Regions from separate parts of the Homo sapiens genome. Here region 2 is linked to region 1. A link means that fine-mapping ties the variant in region 1 to the plasma level of a protein whose gene starts in the linked region. Region 1 holds a variant in brackets. A gene starts in the other region. All regions are shown on their reverse strands. Region 1 holds the start of QSER1 (glutamine and serine rich 1). Region 2 holds the start of CCN4 (cellular communication network factor 4).

Evidence for each region. PIP is the chance, under the fine-mapping model, that this variant and not a neighbour inherited with it causes the effect. Protein levels are from antibody-based Olink assays in UK Biobank. Linkage for the fine-mapping came from a reference panel and not from the study's own genotypes, which makes the PIPs less certain.
Region 2: it holds the start of CCN4, and the variant in region 1 is fine-mapped to the plasma level of the CCN4 protein (UK Biobank, PIP 0.98).

What each region holds. Positions count from the first base shown.
Region 1 is chr11:32,888,650-32,898,686 of GRCh38, reverse strand. QSER1 (glutamine and serine rich 1) reads right to left here and starts at 5,876. Exons shown (of 13, transcript NM_001076786.3): 1 at 5,353-5,876. The coding sequence starts at 5,561. RefSeq lists silencers at 5,104-5,503, 5,584-6,203 and an enhancer at 6,951-7,525. The variant C/GGCGGCC (reference allele first, on the strand shown) is at 5,844.
Region 2 is chr8:133,186,048-133,196,084 of GRCh38, reverse strand. It overlaps CCN4 (cellular communication network factor 4), which reads right to left and starts at 5,046. Exons shown (of 5, transcript NM_003882.4): 1 at 4,872-5,046. The coding sequence starts at 4,940. RefSeq lists an enhancer at 1-57 and a silencer at 3,927-4,174.

The sequences.
Region 1 (10,037 bases):
TGAGCCCAGGAGGTCGAGGCTGCAGTAAGCTGTGTTCATACCACTGTACTCCACCCTAGGCAGCAGAGTTAGACCCTGTCTCAAGAAAAAATAAAAAAGAAAATAAATTAAAAAAAATTGGTCAGTAAACGCAGAGCCATACAGAGCACATTACAATGTGTGTGTGTGTGTGTGTGTGTGTGTGTGTGTGTGTGTGTGTGTGTGACAGGTTCTCACTCTGTCGCTCACACTGAAGTGCAGTGGCACCATCACAGCTCACGGCAACCTCCACCTCCCAGGCTCAAGCCATCCTCCCACCCCAGCCTCCAGAGTAGCTGGGACCACAGGCGCACGCCACCATGCACGGCTAATTTTTTCTATTTATTTTTTGTAGAGATAGGGTTTCACCACGTTGCGTAGGCTGGTCTCAAACTCTTGGGCTCAAGCAATACTCCCACCTCAGCCTCCCAAAGTGCTGGGATTACAGGCGTGAGATATCACGCCTGACCATATTACAGATGTTTAAAAATGTGACCCTAATATGTAGGAGTAGCCATGGAAAGGCTTTAAGCAAAGGACCAAGAGCAAACTTGTAGATCTGTGTTTTTAAAAATCACTCTGGATGGTATAAGAAGAATGAATTGAAGAGAGGAAAGAAAAGGTCCAAGATGACTAAGTTAGGAAGCTACCACAGTTGTCCAAGTGAAAAATAATGGTGGCTTGGACCAGCTGGAGCAGTGGATACAAAAGAAGCAGACAGTTTCAAGACATTAGATTCAAAACAGTAGGTCTTAGTGACTGAGCACACACAACTCCCACCATCTGGCCTGGGCAACTAAGTGGACAGAGGTATGACTACTGAGATGGGCCTCACTAGAGAAGCAGAGGTGTGATGGGTGGGGAAAGCATATCATTAAGCTCAAGTAAAAGGTCAAAGAGGTAGTTGGTTATGTGATCAGGTTTTCAGAAGAGTCTGAGGTCCTGAGAAGAGTCTGCTCAAATATGGGCATCTCCACTGAGATAGTATTTAAAAGCATGGACGTGGATGTGAGTCCGCAGGAGAAAGCAAGGAATGAACAAGAAATTTATCAATCCCAAGCCCTGAGGAAACAGTAACATGCAGAGATTAGACAGAAGAGGAGTAAACACCAGTGAAGAACAGGAAAAAGCGTTGGGCCAGAAAAGTAGGAGGAAAACCAGGCAAGTACAGTGCTATGGAAGTGAAAAGGAATGTATTTCAACTAGGTAATGGTCAACGGTGACAAAGAACACTTAAATAAGGATATTAATGATGCTTAGGTTTCCAGGCCAACTCACAGAAACTCATTTCACATATAGGTGGATTACAGCATTCCACTATCTTACAATAAAGCAGTGCAGTACACTGGTTATCACATAGGCTCCAGATCTGCAATGCCCAGGTTTCAATCACAGCACCACTATTTACTAGCTATGTAGCTGTAGGTATAAATTACTTCATGTCTCTATCCCTCAGTTTCCTCATCCATAAAAGGATGGTAAAAAGAATGCCTACCTCAAAGGATTTTTATAATGAATTTTGATAAATGAATGTATGTATTCATTTATTCATGATAAATGAATTTTGATAAATGAATGTACGTGTGACTTAAAACAGCTAGCACAAATTAGTTGCTAGTGATGTAAATGACAGCTACTATTACTTACAACACGGTTTCCATGGGAAAAAACTTTCTGAACTCTAACAGTGGAAGTTTGTCTGAAATAACCTTTCATTAACTTGAGATTGTTCTTACGCCTTACAAATTATGATCTATAAGGCCTTTTCCCAAAAACCTTGAGGAAAACTCTAGATTTGAAATGTATCAAACAAATGTCCATCATATAGAAACTGACAGGTTTTAGAAGAGCTAATCATTACTTTGGTTTTTCAGAGGAGTATTTATCATACTCATTATACCTCATACTAAAAAAAAGTATGCATTAGGAATTCTAAAAACTGGTGCCAAAAGTTATTTCAAGTTAGAAAGGCAAAAAACAGGCCAGGCACGGTGGCTCACACCTGTAATCCCAGCACTTTGGGAGGCCAAAATGGGCGGATCACCTGAGGTCAGGAGTTCAAGACCAGCCTGGCCAATGTAGTGAAACCCCATCTCTACTAAAAATACAAAAATTACCAGCCTGGCCAATGCGGTGAAGCCCCATCTCTACTAAAAATACAAAAATTAGCCAGGTGTGGTTAGCTACTCAGGAGGCTGAGGCAGGAGAACTGCTTGAACCCGTGAGGCAGAGGGTGCAGAGAGCTGAGATCACGCCGTTGCACTCCAGCCTGGGCAACAAGAGCGAAACTCCATCGCAAAAAATAAAATAAAATAAAATAAATAAACCTATTTAAATACAAAATATTTCCATTCCCTTACTTTCTGGTGCATATTCAAATACGAACACATCGATTATCACCATAAAACAGCCTGCCTCTTCCTGTTGTGACCAAGATATAAGTATCAAGTACAGAATGCGGCAATGGATCTGCAGACTCTTGATGACCTTCTTATTTCCCAAGCTATGCAAAGGTATTTACAACATCCAAAACTGCACCCCAAAAGGTATTTCCAACTGCGTGGTGTTCAGCAAAGGACATGTTCATTCATTTAGTTCCTAAAACGAACTGAAATTAGCATAAATAAATGAAGATTTATATGGCCAGTCCTTATCCCTGTACTTTCCAAGTACCTAGCAAGTACTCTGAGAAATATTCAAAAATCTTTCTATAAGCCCCATTTAAGGTATAATGCTGGAGTTTCCCACTCTATTTTTCCACTGTTAGTACAATAAAACTACCTAATAACTAACAGAGCTGTTGTATTCAAAAAAGTATTGTTTCAAACTCATGAAAAGCTGTTTATCATGTACCTTCCCATCAACTGATGAAAATGATGTATTTCAAGACCAAGAAGGCATAAAGTAGGATGTTAGATCCCTGTCGGCAACAACTGAATGTCATTACCATCTGTCAGCTTCTGAATAGGTTACAGGAAACAAGGTGACAGACAGGCTAATTCTTTATGGATAAGTATCCATATTACATCATCACAACTAGTACTCATTTGCACCTTCACAAGAAACTGCCACAAAGGGGAACAAAAACATTCAACTGATATGTGCATTATGAAAAAGCTTTTTAAAATGGTATAAAAATATAAATAAGCTTCTGAAGTGTAGAATATTTAGACTTACAAGGCATATTTCAGATTTGCCATTTTTGATATAACTGAAATCAAAGGGAATATTTGCACAGTTTGAGGAATAAAATGAGGTATAATTCAGAAGTGTAACTCTGTACAGATGGCCTGATCCCAATACAAGATGTTAACAAAGCAGGCTGGCGGGGGAGGGGGGTAAACCTGCATTTTCTATGCTGTATTTTAGCTGATTCCCCCCACCGCTTATTTTTTAAAAAAGCAGGGGGAGAGGGCATGAGGGGTAATATTTAAGATTCAATAACTTCTAGTAAACAGAAAATAAATCTCCTTTAGATTATGTGTGCCAAGTGAATCTACTTACTGTTTTCAAGTGTGTTTGGGAAGTCATTTCGTGTTACTCTGATAAATAACATTTGGAAAATATGACAAGTAGATTTTAGTTTCTTGCCTCAGAAGTATTCTACTAAAAGAAGTAACTAGGTAGTATTTCAGTTCCATTTACCTAATAAATATTTTTCATTTAAAAGATAAAAAATGCGGCACAAATACCTATCATGCTGTTCAATGATGAGAAAGTAATTTTCATTTGTAAATTATCCTAGTCAATGCAAAAAGCTACTTGAAAAAGATAGTCAAATTACCATCAGCAAGAAATAATGGGTGAAGTGCCAAACGTCTTTCATGAAACTCCTTAAAATGGCTTACTTGTATGTAATACAAAATTATGGCTATTTCTGAAAGGTTTCAGCATTTAATTACTTAGCTCCAAATTGGCACATCACATTATTTTTGTTAACTCCCAAGTCTTGAAAACAAAGGGCCTAAAATTTTCTGAGAAAGCTTATATTCCTATTCTTGAAGCAAATTTTTCTCATTCTTTCACAATCGTCCCAATGGACAATCTAAGACAAAGACCAGCTACCCTTCACACTTATTTGCTCAATCATGAACGTAGAACTTTCGTAAAAACAAAGAAGATAACCTGGAACACGGTAATGTATAAACTTAAAACAAAAGTTCACTTCTGTCGTGAAAAATAATGAAGAAATCTGATGAGATCATAAAGCCACGAAGCTTCCTGTTGGTAGCTGAGGATGAAGTCATTAGCAACCCAGGATTCCCTGGTCCATGTAATCAGAAGCTGCACCTACCAGATTCTGTATTGTTCGGGAGAGGTGGCTTTAAAACACCCCGCTCACCAATTCTCCAAACCAGACCACGCCTTCCAGTTATCATTCAAATGGGACCGTTTCACAGTGTGGCACTACTACACATTTCCCGCGAGCTTAAATATCAAGTAGGAGTCAAAATTTTAGATTCCCTTGGTCATGCAAGATGAACTCTTGAACCCCACGCTACATAATGCACCCGGACCTTAAAGGCCGAGATGGAGAAGCATGCTTTGGTTCTTCAACCTTTACGGCCTTCACTACCCCCACCCCAACCCCCGCCCCATTTCTTCCCAACTCTCAGTCACCCCGAGGCATAGAAGGCAAAGAAAGATTCCTTACTTCCTGCTGTTGTTAAAAGGGGAGGAAACCTAAGAGCAACTTTGAACGCGTGGAAGAAAAATCGCCTAAATCTTGGCCACCAGCGCAAACATATGTCACCCGGCCCTGGAGCCGCGTTCGCGCCCTGCCGGGCCCCCTCTTCTGCCCTGCGCCCCGGGGATTCTCCCGTAGCCCAGCCCTCCCGGGCCCCCCAGTGTCTCCGGGACGCGGTTCCGCGACTCTTCCTCTCCCGCCTCCGCAACCCTCACACGCCGGAGTCCCCAAGACCGCATTGTCGGCCACCCAGGTTCCAATACAATGGATCGCCACTGCCCCAAACTCTCCGGCGCCCCCTTCGGACCCCCGGCGCCAATCCTGGGTCTCACAGATCCCGAGTTCAGCCACGAGCCCAAACTTCACCATGTGAGAGCCCAGGACCCAAGAGGTGACGGAGCCCCACGACTCCCGCCCAGCTATTCCTTCACCCGCCGTCCCCAGGCGCGAATCCTGCACCGGGCGCCCCCACCTACCCGCGACCACCCCGTAGGAGTCATCAGCCGCCTCCCCCGAGCTGGCCGAGGGCGAGCGGAGGGCTCCCCGCCCGGCCCAGACCTCTGGGCGGCGCTGCAACCGAGCGAAGGCCCCAAACGCATCCCCGGCCTTTCCTGGTCCACCGCGACCCCGCCGCCCACCCTCCCTACCTGGCCTTGAGGCTGGGGCTGCTGCCGCTACTGCAGCTGCCACTGCTGCAGCTGCTGCTGGCGGCGGCGGCGGCGGCTCGGGGTTCGTACGCCCAGGCTGGGGCGGGGGGCTGCGCAGCGGCGCTGGCGGGGACGGGGGCGGCGGGGGGCGCGGGCGGCGGCGGCGGCGGCGGCTCGGTGAAGCCCGAGGTCGCGTAGTTCCTGTCCATCGTGGGGGTGGCGTAGGGAGGGCGGGCAGCAGCGGGGGATCCTCCAGGGCTCCGTGTGACGGGGGCGGGCAGGGAGAGGGGGCGGGGGAGGAAGAGGGGGCGGCGGCGGTGGAGGGAGCTGCCCCCTCACATGGCCCCGGCGAGCAGGCGGGAGAAGGGCGCGCTGGCGAGTCTGGGCCGCAAAGACCCGGGCCGCGGCGGGCGGCGAGGCCCCAGCTGGGCGTCAGGGAAGCGGAGGCACCCGCGGCCGGGACTCGCGGCGACGGCGGCGGCGGCGGCGGC[C/GGCGGCC]GCTGCGCCCCATGTTGGTGGATTTCCCAGGATGCACCTCCCGCCCCCCTCCGCCCCGCGGCCTTGCCCCGCCTCCCCTCTGAGCCCCGCGCTTGCCGCTCGCGGGGCTGGCGGGCGGCCGCGAGGCCTCCGCCACCGCAGGACGCTTCGCGAGGGACAGTTGGGGCCGAGAAGGCGCGGGTCCTGCGGGGCCCGGCCGACTTCAGGGACTCCGAGGGGCGCCCGCCAGCCGGAGCCCGCGAACCGCAGACTTCCCGCCTTCCGCAGCCCGGAAGGGAGCTGTCCGCACTCGCCGCGGCCCGCGTGGGAAGGGACCGCGCCTGGCTATCGCCCCGCGCGGGGGAGGGGAAGTGGAGTGGAACCCAGCGTAGGGCGCTGCTCAGGGGTAGCCGGGTCAACGCTTTGCTTGGAGCTCACTATTTGACCCTTCGGGTTATTTTGAGGGACTCCAGTACTCAGTTCCCTGATCGCGATTTCTTTCTCTGCGCCCCAATCCAGAAACAGCTGAGCGAGCTCTTTTGCAGTTCCGCTTACTCCCTCCCCAAAGCTTGCTGGGCTAGAGGACCCTTTTCCTGCTGTTAGGGGAGATTTATATTCAAAGAGATTCAAATTCAAACGTATTATTTTCCAATCCTCGCTGAAAGGGCCTTTCCCAAGGGCTCTTATTAACTGTCCCCACCCCCACCTTGGGGATTTTTCTCGCTCTGGGTTTCAGAATCTTCTATCCCAAGATAGATAACCACCTCTTCATTGATTAATCCAACTACCATCTGGATGACTTTAATTACAATAAATTTAAACTCACCATGCACTCTGATGTTGAGGGGTTTTGTTTGAGACTTGGAACTTCAGCAGGACTCTCTCCCCAAACATTTCCTATCTGATCTCCAAGCTGCTTGGTGTGCGGTAATTTAATGACTATTTGCGGTTCTTCTGTTGCATAGCAGAGTTGTATTTCTTGTAATAACTCACAAGTATTGAAACTAGGGAATCGTACAAATCATCGTTTGGCCCTTGGGCCATAAATTTAAAGGTTAAAATAACAGTAAAATTTCTATTTAATGACCACCTCCTTTTAAAAATCAATATTGGTTTAACACCTATTATGTGCTTAGCACAGAAATCTATCCCTCAAGATAAGCATAACATAAAGGTTTAAGCAAATCAGCCGTAGTGAAAGACCTAATAAACTTGATACGCTATCTCTGATGACCATTGAAAAAGTTTAAACTTTGGTAATAATCTGGTGTTGGATCTGCTATGCCTTGCGAGATTAATTTTGTTCTGGAAGATCCTGTTTTCCTCCTGGCGCCTACATCCTTTTGTTCCTATTCATTCCTTTTTGCAAGTCTTTCTGCACCTGTGATGCTTGGAGCCTGGTCCCCGGGTGGGGAAGCAAGGAAGTGAGTAGTCGTTATTTACACATGAATTCAAACGTGTAGGCACAGCGACTTTGCCAATTTTATGTTAATTACAAAATGCATTTACTGAGGATATCTTTGAAAAGTGGTTTTTCTTTGAAAAGGAATTTGCGAACTAATCTGAGTTCATGCAGAGAAGTAACGTAAATCTTCATTACATTTATTTTTCTTCCTGCAAACTGGAAATGTGGGATCTAAATTAAAAAGTTTTCACAACTAGCTATTATATTTATAAGTACTTTTGTGAGCGCTAAAGTTTTGTCTCTATGAAAAGTATAGGAAATGGAGTGGCATGCTATAAATGTTTTATGACACTTAGTTTGAGATACCCACAACTGGCACTCAGAGTGAGTTACGCAGGCAATACCAAACAAGTGGCAATAAAACCTTTATAGTCCCTCACACCATTATGTAGTTTGTTTATGTCACATAAATCAGGGAAAGATATTAAGGGAAAATTCTAGTGAGTATTTTTAGTAATATTACTCTGTCACCATATGTTCCTTTGCCATTTAAATGAAATTTCCTTAGTTCACTCTAAATCAGTACAATTATATTTATTTTCAAATGTTACATGTCTACAAATAACATCATTACATTTTTTATCAATACTATTTTTAATTGACAAATCATAATTGCATACATTTATGGGGTACAATGTGATGCTTTGATATATGTAAATAAATCTTTTAAAAATTTTGTACACTTGATGATACTATCTGAAGAATGTCTTCTTCCCTACTGAAAATATACTTCCAGCTCTGTGAACGTTTCGGGATCTCTCAAATGATTCGTAACCAAGCTGCTTCAAGTCTGATCTAGGTAATGTCAAACTCTAGAATGAGCATTGTTGGTCCCGTGTTTTTGTTTGTTCGTTTTTTCAGACAGTCTCGCTCTGTCGCCCAGGCTTGAGTGCAGTGGGGTGATCTCGTCTCACTGCAACCTCCGCCTCCCGGATTCAAGCGATTCTCCTGCCTCAGCCTCCTGAGTAGCTGGGAATACAGGCGCATGCCACCACGCCCAGCTAATTTTTTTGTATTTTTAGTAGAGACGGGTTTCACCATTTTGGCCAGGCTAGTCTCGAACTCTTGACCTCAGATGATCCGCCTGCCTCAGCCTCCCAAAGTTCTGGGATTACAGGCGTGAGCCACCGCGACCTGTGAAATACGTATTGATTTTCTAATGGGATGGGAGTTAGGGTGGAAAATGTGGGGAGATTGTTCATGGGCATGTTCTAAGGCATGACTAACTCTAGACAATAAACTCAGAAGGAAGTGGGAGATGGAGGTGAGGAAGAAGGAAAGAGTTTTTTTTGTTTTTTTTCAGACAGGGTCTCGCTATGGTGTCCAAGGCTGGTCTTGAGCTCCTGGCCTCAAGCAATCCTCCCACCTCAGCCTTCCAAAGTGCTGGAAGATTCCTTCTTAAGTGTAGGATTTACTCCAATTCATCTTAAAACCAAACTGCCTTTGATTTAATCAATTTTCAAATCTTGCCCCGATTTTAGAATTGAGATAGAGTGTTTTGGTTTTTCTTTTTTGGGGGGGAAAGGAAAGGAATATGTAAATGACTAATTGGAACTTCTGAATGGGCATTTTTTTTTCTTAGATAGCGTCTTGCTCTGTCGCCCAGGCTGGAGTGCAGTGGCGCGATTTCGGCTCACTGCAAGCTCTGCCTCCTGGGTTTTACGCCATTCTCCTGCCTAAGCCTCCCGAGTAGCTGGGACTACAGGTGCCCGCCACCACGCCCAGCTAATTTTTTGTATTTTTAGTAGAGACGAGGTTTCGTCGTGTTAGCCAGGATGGTCTCGATCTCCTGACCTCGTGATATGCCCACCTCAGCCTCCCAAAGTGCTGGGATTACAGGCATGAGCCACCGCATCCAGCCTGAATGGGCATTTTTAAAGTAGCTTACATATTTATTCATTCAATAGATATGTATTTAGAGCCTAATACAGTGCCAAGCATAATACTAAATGCTGTGAATACGAGGGTAAATTTAATACAACGCCTGTCTTTATGGAACCTGTAATTTATGAGGAAAAGAGGCAGACACACAACTAATTGTAATGCAATAGGATAGTGTTAAATATAATAGAAATTGGAATAAAGCACCAGAGGACAATTGAAAAGGAAGTAATTGATTTTGCCTCTCAAAAAAAAAAAAAAAAGAAAATAAGTATTTCAACTGGTAGAAAGATTGTAGTTCTATTGAGTACATAGTTCATTGCCTTCCTTTTGTAGTTGAGGAAGCTGAGGCCTGGTATTGAGTGACTTGCTTTAAGATGATGGAGGGAATCAGTTGGGGTGAGACCCAGGAAACCCCATCTTCACTGAGGTGGCCTTGTTCATTAGCTTGTTGGGAAATGCAGAATTTGGGGTTGCCTAACTAGAAATGTAGTCAGTAAGTCCACACATTCCTATGTTATAAATAGACCAACCATCAAGAAGAAAGATCCAAGAAGGTCAAGTTTGTGGTTTCACTGAGAATACAAGGAATATGTGTGTGAGAAGTGATTTGAACAGGGAAAGAAGATATGGTTTTAAATTTTTCCCTTCTCTTCTGGCATTGAGGGAAACTATAAGCCCTGTCTTTGCCAGAGCAGCCCTGGTTTCCATCTCTTAGGTCAACATCATAAATTAAATTAAAACATCAGAAAGGAAATAAAAATTAGCCAGGCATGGTGGTGCACCTGTAGTCCTGAGAGGTGACAGCGTGCTGGCAGCCCTCGCTTGCTCTCGGCGCCTCCTAGGCCTTGGCGCCCACTCTGGCCACA
Region 2 (10,037 bases), not on the chromosome of region 1:
GGGGACAGCTGTGCTGAAGCCTTGCTTTGAAACCTCCACGGTGACCCTTGCTGGCTCGCTTTGCTTCCTGGTTGTGGTTGGCACCCTTCTCAGCCCCTCCCAGGAACCCACCTGGACCATGGCTGCTTCGCCACCCTTGCTTCCATATCAGAGCCCACCTCCCTTGGAGTTTGCCTCCCTGCTGCCCAGAGGATGGCTGAGGTTCCTGGGAAGATCCCTGGGTTGCTGTTTATACAAAGCCAAGGGCAGCCTCCTGGCATGTGGGTGCTTTGCTGGCACAGGGCCGGAGCCTTTTCTAAAACCTGGGGGTGGTTGGTGGGGCTTGCTGTGGAGCCAGGAGTGCTGCTCAGCCCACAAGGTAGCGTTTTGTCTCTCAAGGAGCTGGTTGGGCGGAGGCCTGTTCCCGTGCCCACTCCTTCTCCAAATGCCATGCCGAGGGGGAAATGCCTTTCAGTGCCGTCCTCGTGCCAGCCTCCAAGATAAGCTGTCGGCTGGAGGGGCCCTGAGCTGGCAGCAGGGGCTTCAGGGAGCCCAAAGAGGCTCTGGGTGGGGAGTTGGGGGTGTGGGGCCTGGATGGGGTTTGAAATCTTCACTCAGATTCCAACTCTAAACAGGAGGTGTGAAAAGACATATTGTTCACATTCTCTGTTTTCTAAAGGGGATATTTTGCCATACACTTGACCCACATTATTCTGCAGTTGCTTCTGGAAGCAGAGAATGAGTTTGTATCTCACACCCAAACACAAGGTTCACACACACACACACCACACACGCAAACACAACACATACACACTCAACACACACACACCACCCACACACTACAAAAACACACCACATATACACTCAACAGACACACACCACACACATACACACACCATACACACACCACACACACACCACATACACAAACACACCACATACACACTCAACACACACACACCACAAACATGCTCACACCATACACACACCATGCACAAGCACCACGCACACCACACACACACAAGCACACTACATACATAATACACACCACACACATACACACCATGCATACACACGCATACCACACACCACACACACAACACACACACAAACCACATACACACTCAACACACACACCACACACATACACAGACACCACACACACACCACACACACAAACACACCATATACACACTCAGTACACACACCACACACATACACACACAAAAACACACCACAAACACACTCAACACACACACCACACACCACACACACACGTACCACACACACCACACACAATAAACACCACACACACACACCACACATCCCCCCCACACACCCCAGGCACATACCCCACAAACACACCACACACACACTACACACATCCCCACACACACCACACACACCCTCCACACACACACCACACACACACCACATCCCCCACCACACACGCACACACGCACACACCCCACACACCCCACACACACTACACAAACCCACACACACACACCCCACACACCCCACACACCCCTCCATACCACCACCCCCCCACACACACCACATACACACCACACACACCCCCACACACACCACACTCATGTTCCACACACACCACACCCCCCACCACACACACACACACCCCACACACATACCACACACACACCACACACACATACCACACACACACCACACAAATCCACACACACCCCCACACACCACACACACACCCCACACACACACCCCCACACACCACCACCCCCCCACACACACCACACAGGCACACACATACACACACACACCACACACACACACCAGACACACCCCACATACACACCATACGCATACCCCCACACACCCTCTCACAAACACACCCCACCCCACACACACACAGTGCAGCTATGCACATCCCACATGCACTGATACAGGAGGGAGGATGTGGGTTTTACCTGTAGACCTATACATAGACCACCACAGGCCTAATGCTTGCCCAGGATTTTATCACTCAGCTTTCGTTTGCTGAATTACACACTTCTGAGAGGTTTTCCTCAGGCACATTTTCACGTTCAGCAGCAGGGAGCTTGGTGTGGTGAGACAGTTAGTCCCAATTAACAAACGAGGAAAGTGAGGTCTGAGGTGCAACGGGACTTAGTGCGGCCGACACAGCCAGTGGCAGAGCCTGATTCCAGCCCCTCTACTCTGGCTGACGTTACCCCTGTCACCTGCCCCACTAGCCAGTAAACTCTGTCGGGCAGGGACTACATGCCCCTGGTTTCTGCCCTTGGACCAGGGAGGCAGGAGGCTACATTACCAAGAGCTGGACCAAGGTTCAAATGTCAGCTTCCCTGATTACCAGCTGTGTGACCTTTGACAAATTACTTAACCTCTCCGAGTCTCAGTTTTCATATCTGTTAAGGAGGATAATTGCACTTGCTAAATAATATTGTTATGGGAATTGTAGAATGTGCCTAATAAATGTTTGTTGGGTGAACTGAGGTTGGTCTTATACATGTGTTGGCTCAGTGCTTGCTAATGCACATTAAATGGAGTCCCTTTCTCTTAGCACATGGCGGACATGCTCAACAAATGCAGAAGAAAAGAATAAAGAGATGAAAGCATAAGTCATATTTGCAATACACCTTTAGCACAGATTAAATTCCCAAATACACTCGGCTGTTCCTGAGATCACTCCAGTGCCTTCCTCCTTGGCTGATCTCCTTCTGGGCTGCCATCTTCCTCCTTCCACTGCAGAATCTTTACAGAGTGCTTTCATATCTCCCAGAGAAGTCCCCCTTGTAACTCTACTTCCTCAAAGTTTTCTTGGCAATTCTCACATGCATTTTCTTCAATATGAACATTTACAACAATTTTTTCCATTAAGATCTCACTGAGACCCTGGTTGGACATGTGCTCCCTTTGCATATTAATTCGGGAGGATGACCATGTATGGAATTTGGCTATGAAACAAGGCTGGTTTCCAAATGGAGTCCAGCTCGTTTCTATCAGTCTCACAGCCCACACAGGGGGCGGGGCTTTCAGGACATCCTGAGAACTCCAGTGCCGTGCACACCTCTGTCCCAGAAGCATCTAAATCATGAAACAAGCATGGGGTGGGTGGTCTGGGTTCCCCAGGCAGGGGCTGCCTAGAAGAGAGGTACCTTGTGCTGGTCCCGGGAGCCTTCCCTCCAACCTGCTCCCTGGGTCCCTCCACACGCTCTGCTCCTTTGCTGGTCTCCTCTGGCTGAGTCCTCGGCTCTGTCCTTCACTCCTCCTCAGCACCGGCTGTTCTGGGAGCTGACTGGGGCTCCAGAGTACTTGGACTCATGCTTAAACCTCTCGCCTCCTCTGCCCACTCAGACTTTGGCTTCTCTCAAACGCTCACCTTTTCTCCATCCTCTCCCTGCCCTCCCAGACATAGCAACCTGCAAAGCTATACCCAAATAAAGGCGCAGCCATACCCAGAGCCGAAATAAACAGCGACTTAGCTCCTTCTGGGCACTCCTGTAGGACACAGTCAGCTTCCCCTAAGTAGGAATGGTTAGAAATTGGCATCAGAAGATCTAAGTTTGGGCCCTGGCCACTTATTAATGAGGAGCTCCTGGGCAAGTCCTTTACTTGCTCTCACTTTCCATTTCTTTCATTTGTGAAATGGAGCTGATAACTTTCTGGTAAGGTGGTTCTGAACCAACTATAGTCAGGCACCATGCCAGGCGTGAGGATTTAACCAAGATGAAACAGACCCACTCCCCGCCATCATTACACACACCGAGGCATTGAGAGGAATTCCTATTTCCCAGGTCTCAGTTTGCTGTCGGCTCTCGGCCTCAGTTCTGGCTGAAGCAGACCTAGAGTCTGATTCTGGCAAGTGGTTTAACCCCAACACACGGTTTCCTTATCTGTGAAGGGGGCTTCTTAACCCCCAAGGAAGCCATCAGTGTCATTTGGGGATAAACACTCTTTTGCCATCACCCCTCCGTCTCTAGGCTGTTCTGCCAGGAGCAGGTCCTGCCCTGGGCTGTGGAATCTGGGGCTCAGAAGCTGCCAGGTACCCACCTCCTGCCCTCCTTGCACTGCCTGCCTCTGCCTTTTCCTCACCATGCCTGGCCCTAGCAGGCTGGCTCTACACGGTCACATATGTGACTCCCCTGGCTTTTGGAGGTGCAGACCTTTGTCCCTTCCCCTTGGTGTACCCTGGGGTGCAGGTGGAAGAGAGAGAGACTCTGGGGTGCCCACATCACCCCCACCCTGGAACAGCAGGCTTCATAGGCAGGACCCAAGTATGGACACTCTGCAGACTGCAGAGGGCTGTGCAGACCGGAGGTGACAGCAGTTGGGGTTAGACATCACCCTGAGCACTGTTTGCTCAATAAGGAGCTTTTGTTGAAAGCTGGCATTTTTCTTTCCAATTTTTTTTGGCTTTTTCCATCTCCCATCTTCGCAGCATCTCCAATGCTTGGAGTCTTGGAGTTTTCAAACTCAGAGACTCTAGAAGTCACCTAACAACTTCGTCGCTTTACGCTGCTCCTGGAGGGTGAGTGACCCACCCGAGGCCACACAGCCAGGTTAGGCGAAGACGGGTCTGGAGCCCGGGCCCCTGACTCCCAGTTCTGCTGAGGGCCCCGTTCTTTCTGCACTGTTTCAGGTGGGGAGAGAGGGCAGGCTGGACCTGTGCAGTTTGTTTCCCCAAGTGTCGCACCGTCCTCCTCACCCTGCCAGCTTCAGCCAACCTGGGCAGCTGACTCCTCACCCTGGGCTCTGTCCTTGCCCTGTAAGTGGCCACCTTCCAGCCCCAAACCTTCCTGGCCCTTTTCATCCTGCCCACCAGCCCCCATGTAGCAGGACCCAGTAGAGAAGGGAGCTGGGTCTCCCTCTGAGCCCCTCCAGGCAGGACTCACCGTGGCCAGGACGGTGCTGGCGGCTGCTGCTGTCACTGCTGCCAGCGTCCAGGGCAGGAACCACCTCATGCCTGGACGTCAGTGGCACAGGCATCGACCGAGCAGCCCAGAGGATCCGACCACCTCTCGGGGGAGCTGGGCCCAGACTGGCCGGCCCATCAGGAGCACCAGATATGCCTCTTCCGCAGCCCTTGGGGGGTTTTATTAAAGCAAGATCTGACGTCAGGGTGAAGGACAAACCCTGCATTTTCCTCTGAAAAAACTTTTCCTGCCTCTCTCTCTTTTTTTTTTTTCTTTCTTCCCTCTGTCCCCACCTCCAGCCTGAGCTTGGCCAGCCTCCCCAGCTCTGACAGTTCTTAAAGGGAAAGTTACAAGGCTATGACTTCACACTAGGGTGTGAAATTCTCACAGAGGAGCTGGGGTCATCCTGCCTAGGTCTTTCACTACTGTAGGGAGGGGGGAGCATGGGAGGGTGCAGGATGTCCGAGGAGATACTGTTACCCCAGGCAGGCGGGTGTGTGGGCTTTGAGAGGGCTCCCAGTGGGAAATCAACTCCCTGTCATTTCTTCAGGCTGCTCCTACTTCTGGTTTTCTTTTTCCTTTTCTTTTTCTTTTTCTTTTCTTTTCTTTTTTTTTTTTTTTTTTTTTTTTTTTGAGACAGAGTCTCGCTCTGTCGGCCAGGCTGGAGTGCAGTGGCGCGATCTCTGCTCACTGCAACCTCTGTCTCCCAGGCTCAAGCAATTCTCCTGCCTCAGCCTCCTGAATAGCTGAGATTACAGGCATGTGCCACCACACCCAGCTGATTTTTGTATTTTTAGTAGAGACGAGGTTTCACCATGTTGGCCAGGCTGGTCTCAAACTCCTGACCTCAGGTAATCCGCCCACATCAGCCTCCCAAAGTGCTGGGATTACAGGCGTGAGGCATTGCGCCCAACCCTACTTCTGGTTTTCATTTGCCCTCTTGCACTCCCCTCTACCTAGCTGCAAGCGAAAGAGGTGGCTTTCAGTCCACCCATCTAGAGATGATAGGAATTCACAAATAAAATGAGCTCTGAGGCTCAGGTTACAGCATCACCTTCATGACACGTGAAAGCCACGGTAACGCATTTGCTGTTTGCCGTCTCTGCTCATTGGTCAGAAGCCGTTTGGTGCTGGAGCTGTCCCCACGTGTCTCTGGATGCTTGCTATCCCTGGGGGGTTGGGTTTCCTGGCCTGTACCCTTATTGCACTGCTGCCACTGAGTCTCTTCCTTGGGCAAGAAAGGAGATGGGATGTCTTCTATGGGCTGTCCTAGTCCAGCCCTGTGCTCCCCATGGGGACCGCTGCCACAGCCTCCTGACTGATACCCAGCCTCCCTGCCCACCTTCTACCATCCACACATCTCAGAGCAATCCTTGAACTAGCGTCATGTATAGATCATCTTCTGGATACAACTGTCCAAAGCCTGCCCATCACACAGCACAGAGTCCCCAGTCCTGGCGTGGCCCCTGGGCCAGCCAGCTCCCTGTACACTTCTTCCTCTCTCCCTTTCGTGCACCATGCCCAACCACAATGGCCTCCTTGCAACTCCTCTCACACCTTGGCAAGTTCTCAGCATCTCCAGGTCTCAGTAGGAATACTCGACACTGAGGTTTAAATGACAGTTACTCCTTCTCTTCTCTTTTCCTGTAGCTTATTAACAAGGGATGCTGAAGCATGTGTGGCTGCTTGGAGGTAGCAGCAGGCTTGTGTTCATGGAAGAGGTTTATGATCCCTATAGACATGACCCCAGAAGAGATGGTGCTCATGATTTCTCCATTTACTGACCTGGGGATGTGCCTCTGATCCAATTCCGGCCAATGAGACATAAGGGAAACCTGCTAGGGTCTTCTAGAAAAGATTCCCTTCCTCAGGAAGAGAATGACCATCTACTCATTCTTTTCTTTCCTTGTGTGCAAATGTGATGGTTGGAGCTGCAGCAGCCATTTTGGGTATATGAGGCTGAGAATAAAAAGTCAACAAATTGAGGATGGCAGAGTGGAAGCAAAAAAAAGGTCTGAGTCGTTGGGACTTCATGTTGTTGTTGGAGCCACCATTCAGACTTCTCATTACATGAAATAATTTAATATTTTATTGTTTAAACTGTAGTTAGTCTGAATTTTCTTTTGTTGGAGTCAAGTTGTATACTAATTGATACATGAGGATTACTAAAATCATATATGTAAAATTAAAGGGCAGGGTATGTGGGGGGCATGTAAGGACTGCCCAATAAATGTCAGTCATTTTCTTCTCATTAATTTATTGATGCTTAAAAACAAATCCCAGGCTGGGCACGGTGGCTCACACCTGTAATCCCAGCACTCTGGGAGGCCGAGGCGGGCAGATCACAAGGTCAGGAGATCGAGACCACCCTGGCTAACACAGTGAAACCCCGTCTCTACTAAAAATATAAAAAATTAGCCAGGCATGGTGGCGGGCACCTGTAGTCCCAGGTACTCGGGAGGCTGAGGCAGGAGAATGGCGTGAACCCTGGAGGCAGAGGTTGCAGTGAGCCGAGATCGCGCCACTGCACTGCAACCTGGGTGACAGAGCAAGACTGTCTCAAAAAACAAAACAAAACAAGCAAACAAACAAAGCAAAAAATAAATCCTAGGAGGCCAGCATTGTTGACAGGTGTCATTAATAAATAACCCAAGGTGTTAGGGGCCAATCTAGGCTCACTTGGCTTTTGATGAACACTAAGTATGAACGGGCTCTGTGCTGTAGAGCATCTCATGACTACAAGGCAGACAGTGTTATGAAATAGGTGGAACACATCTCAGAGATGCTAGATGGTTTCAGAGCACACGTATGAGTAGTAGATCTGAGGCTGAAACTAAAGTCTCTTAACCTCAGACAAGGCACAGAGTCAGGACCAGACATTTCCAAGCCAGCTTGACCTGCCAAAGCCTCTCAATGTTAAGTGTAACAAGAGCCTGCAGAGCTGGAAGCCATTGAACTCCACCATCATTTTTAGGAAATCCAATTGTCTCGAGCAATTGAAGCAGGCACCCCAAAACATGATCAAAGTGCTGACCATTCCACCTGTGGGTGAAACCTCACATGACCCGGTGAGCCTCATGGGCACCTGCCATTCTTCAATGTCAGTGAAACTGAAAACAAACGGCCCAGTGACCTGGCCAGGATGGTAGATTTGGAGGCAGAATGCCAAGGTGTCCCCCAGCTCTTCCATTTACTGGGGGCCTCGGACAATCAACAACCTCTCTGTGCCTCAGTTTTGCTTGTTTAAAGAAATGATGTTAGTGTCTACCAGATAGGGTCCTCAGGAGGCCAAAAGGGGATAATTGGTATGTCCCCACTTTCCTGATTAGAGGAGCCAGTATGGGCCGCAGCCTAGGCTGCTACGATTGGGTTGTTGTGTGTCCATCCCCACAAGAGCCGGGCAAACACTAAGTGTCTGGCCAGTGGACCAGAACAATAGTTGCTGTGTTCCAGGTGACACCATCTCACCAAATCCTCATCTCAATTCATTCTCACAACCAGTCTCCCATTAGACATTATTATCCCCATTCGACAGATGAGGAAATGGAGGCATGGAGAGATAAGTAACATTTCCCTGCCATTCGGCTAGTACATGGCAAAATTGTGATCTGAACACAGATCTGTGCAGCTTCAAACAATTTTTTTCCCCAAGTAGAGCCAGCTTCCTCATGTGTTGAACAAATAAATGAATAAGTAAGGAATGAATGAATTCAGTAGATGATGGACGGATGGGCAGAGGGATGGAGGCACTCAAGTATGGGGAGATCATACCACTGTTTGGAATGTCCCATTTCCCAGGACTTCCAGGGACAGTCTTCCGCAAGGATGTCCCCCTGTCCTAATCACTTCGTCTAAATAGGCCCTCCGGGCTGGTCTGTAGCTCAGTCACCCACTTTCTTCCTTCATGGTTCTAGCCCTGTGTGCCATTGTTTGTTTATTGAGTATTGATCATTTCCCACATAGATTTTGAGGTCCAAGGGTGAGACCAGGCCCACATCTTCTTATCTATACTGTGTCCACAGCATCAGCACAGAGCCTGGCATGCAGAGGGTACTTGAGACATATTTTTTAGTGAATGACCAAATGAACCAATGAAGAAGTAGATGAGTGAGGTGGTGAAGGGATGTATGGGTTGAAGAATGAAGGGAGGAAGGAGGAAATACTTGGAGGAGAAGACAAATGTGTCCACACATGCTCCTCAAGAGCCAAACTCTGCTCCCTCAAGGTGCTGAGAGGAAGATGAAGCCCATTTCAGGTCTCCAGGAACCACTTATGGAGGGAGCATCAAGGCGTAAATGAAAGACGGAGGTGGCCGTCATCCTGGCTGAGCCCAGGTAAGAGTGTGCAGGTTGCAGGTCCTGGGGGTGATCTTCTGCCTTTTCTCCAGGAGTCGGGCCCATAGGCATCACACAGGGTGACTTATTTTCATTGTCAATGGTGATTTATTGGTACCGGTGCTGCAGAGGGTTCATGGCATGCTGCCAAGGCTACACAGGGTCCCTCTCTGAACAGGGTCCCTCTCTGAACAGGGTCCCCTCTAAACTTAATTTACCAATGTTCTCCCTTGATCCTAATTCCCCATGCCTCTCCTCTGCTCCCCACTGACAACAGGATCTGCATCCCTGAACTTGGATGATTTGTCTGCACGTGTCCTTGTAAACACTGTGAGGTTGTTCATTCAATAATCACATATGGAGTACATACTATGTGCTAAGCACCTTTGAGATAGGTGCTCAAACCACGTCCTCCTTATATTTGAGGAAATCAAGGCACAGAAAGCTAAAGGAACTGGCTCCAGGTCTCACAGCTAGCAGGCATTTGACTACAGACTGGAGCCAGAGAGTGGGCTCCTGAGTCCTGCGCCTTTGTGAGTTTTTAATATAGGTAGGTGGTGGGTGCTACAGCCTCCTTCCATTTTTCCTCTTTTCCACTGAGTTCTATATTTTTCAGATCTGTCTGGCAGCCCCTTCCTAGTGAGTGGCTCCTGACTGCTGCCTTGGTTTCCCCAGTGTGACTTCATCCCATCCCCCATGAGGGACCCTTAAGTTCCCTCCAACTCCCACCAGCAGACCCAGCCACTGCTACTTTCAGGCCTGTTAAGGAATTCCTCTGGGATTCAGGGCTTGCCACCTTGGCTGATGTCAT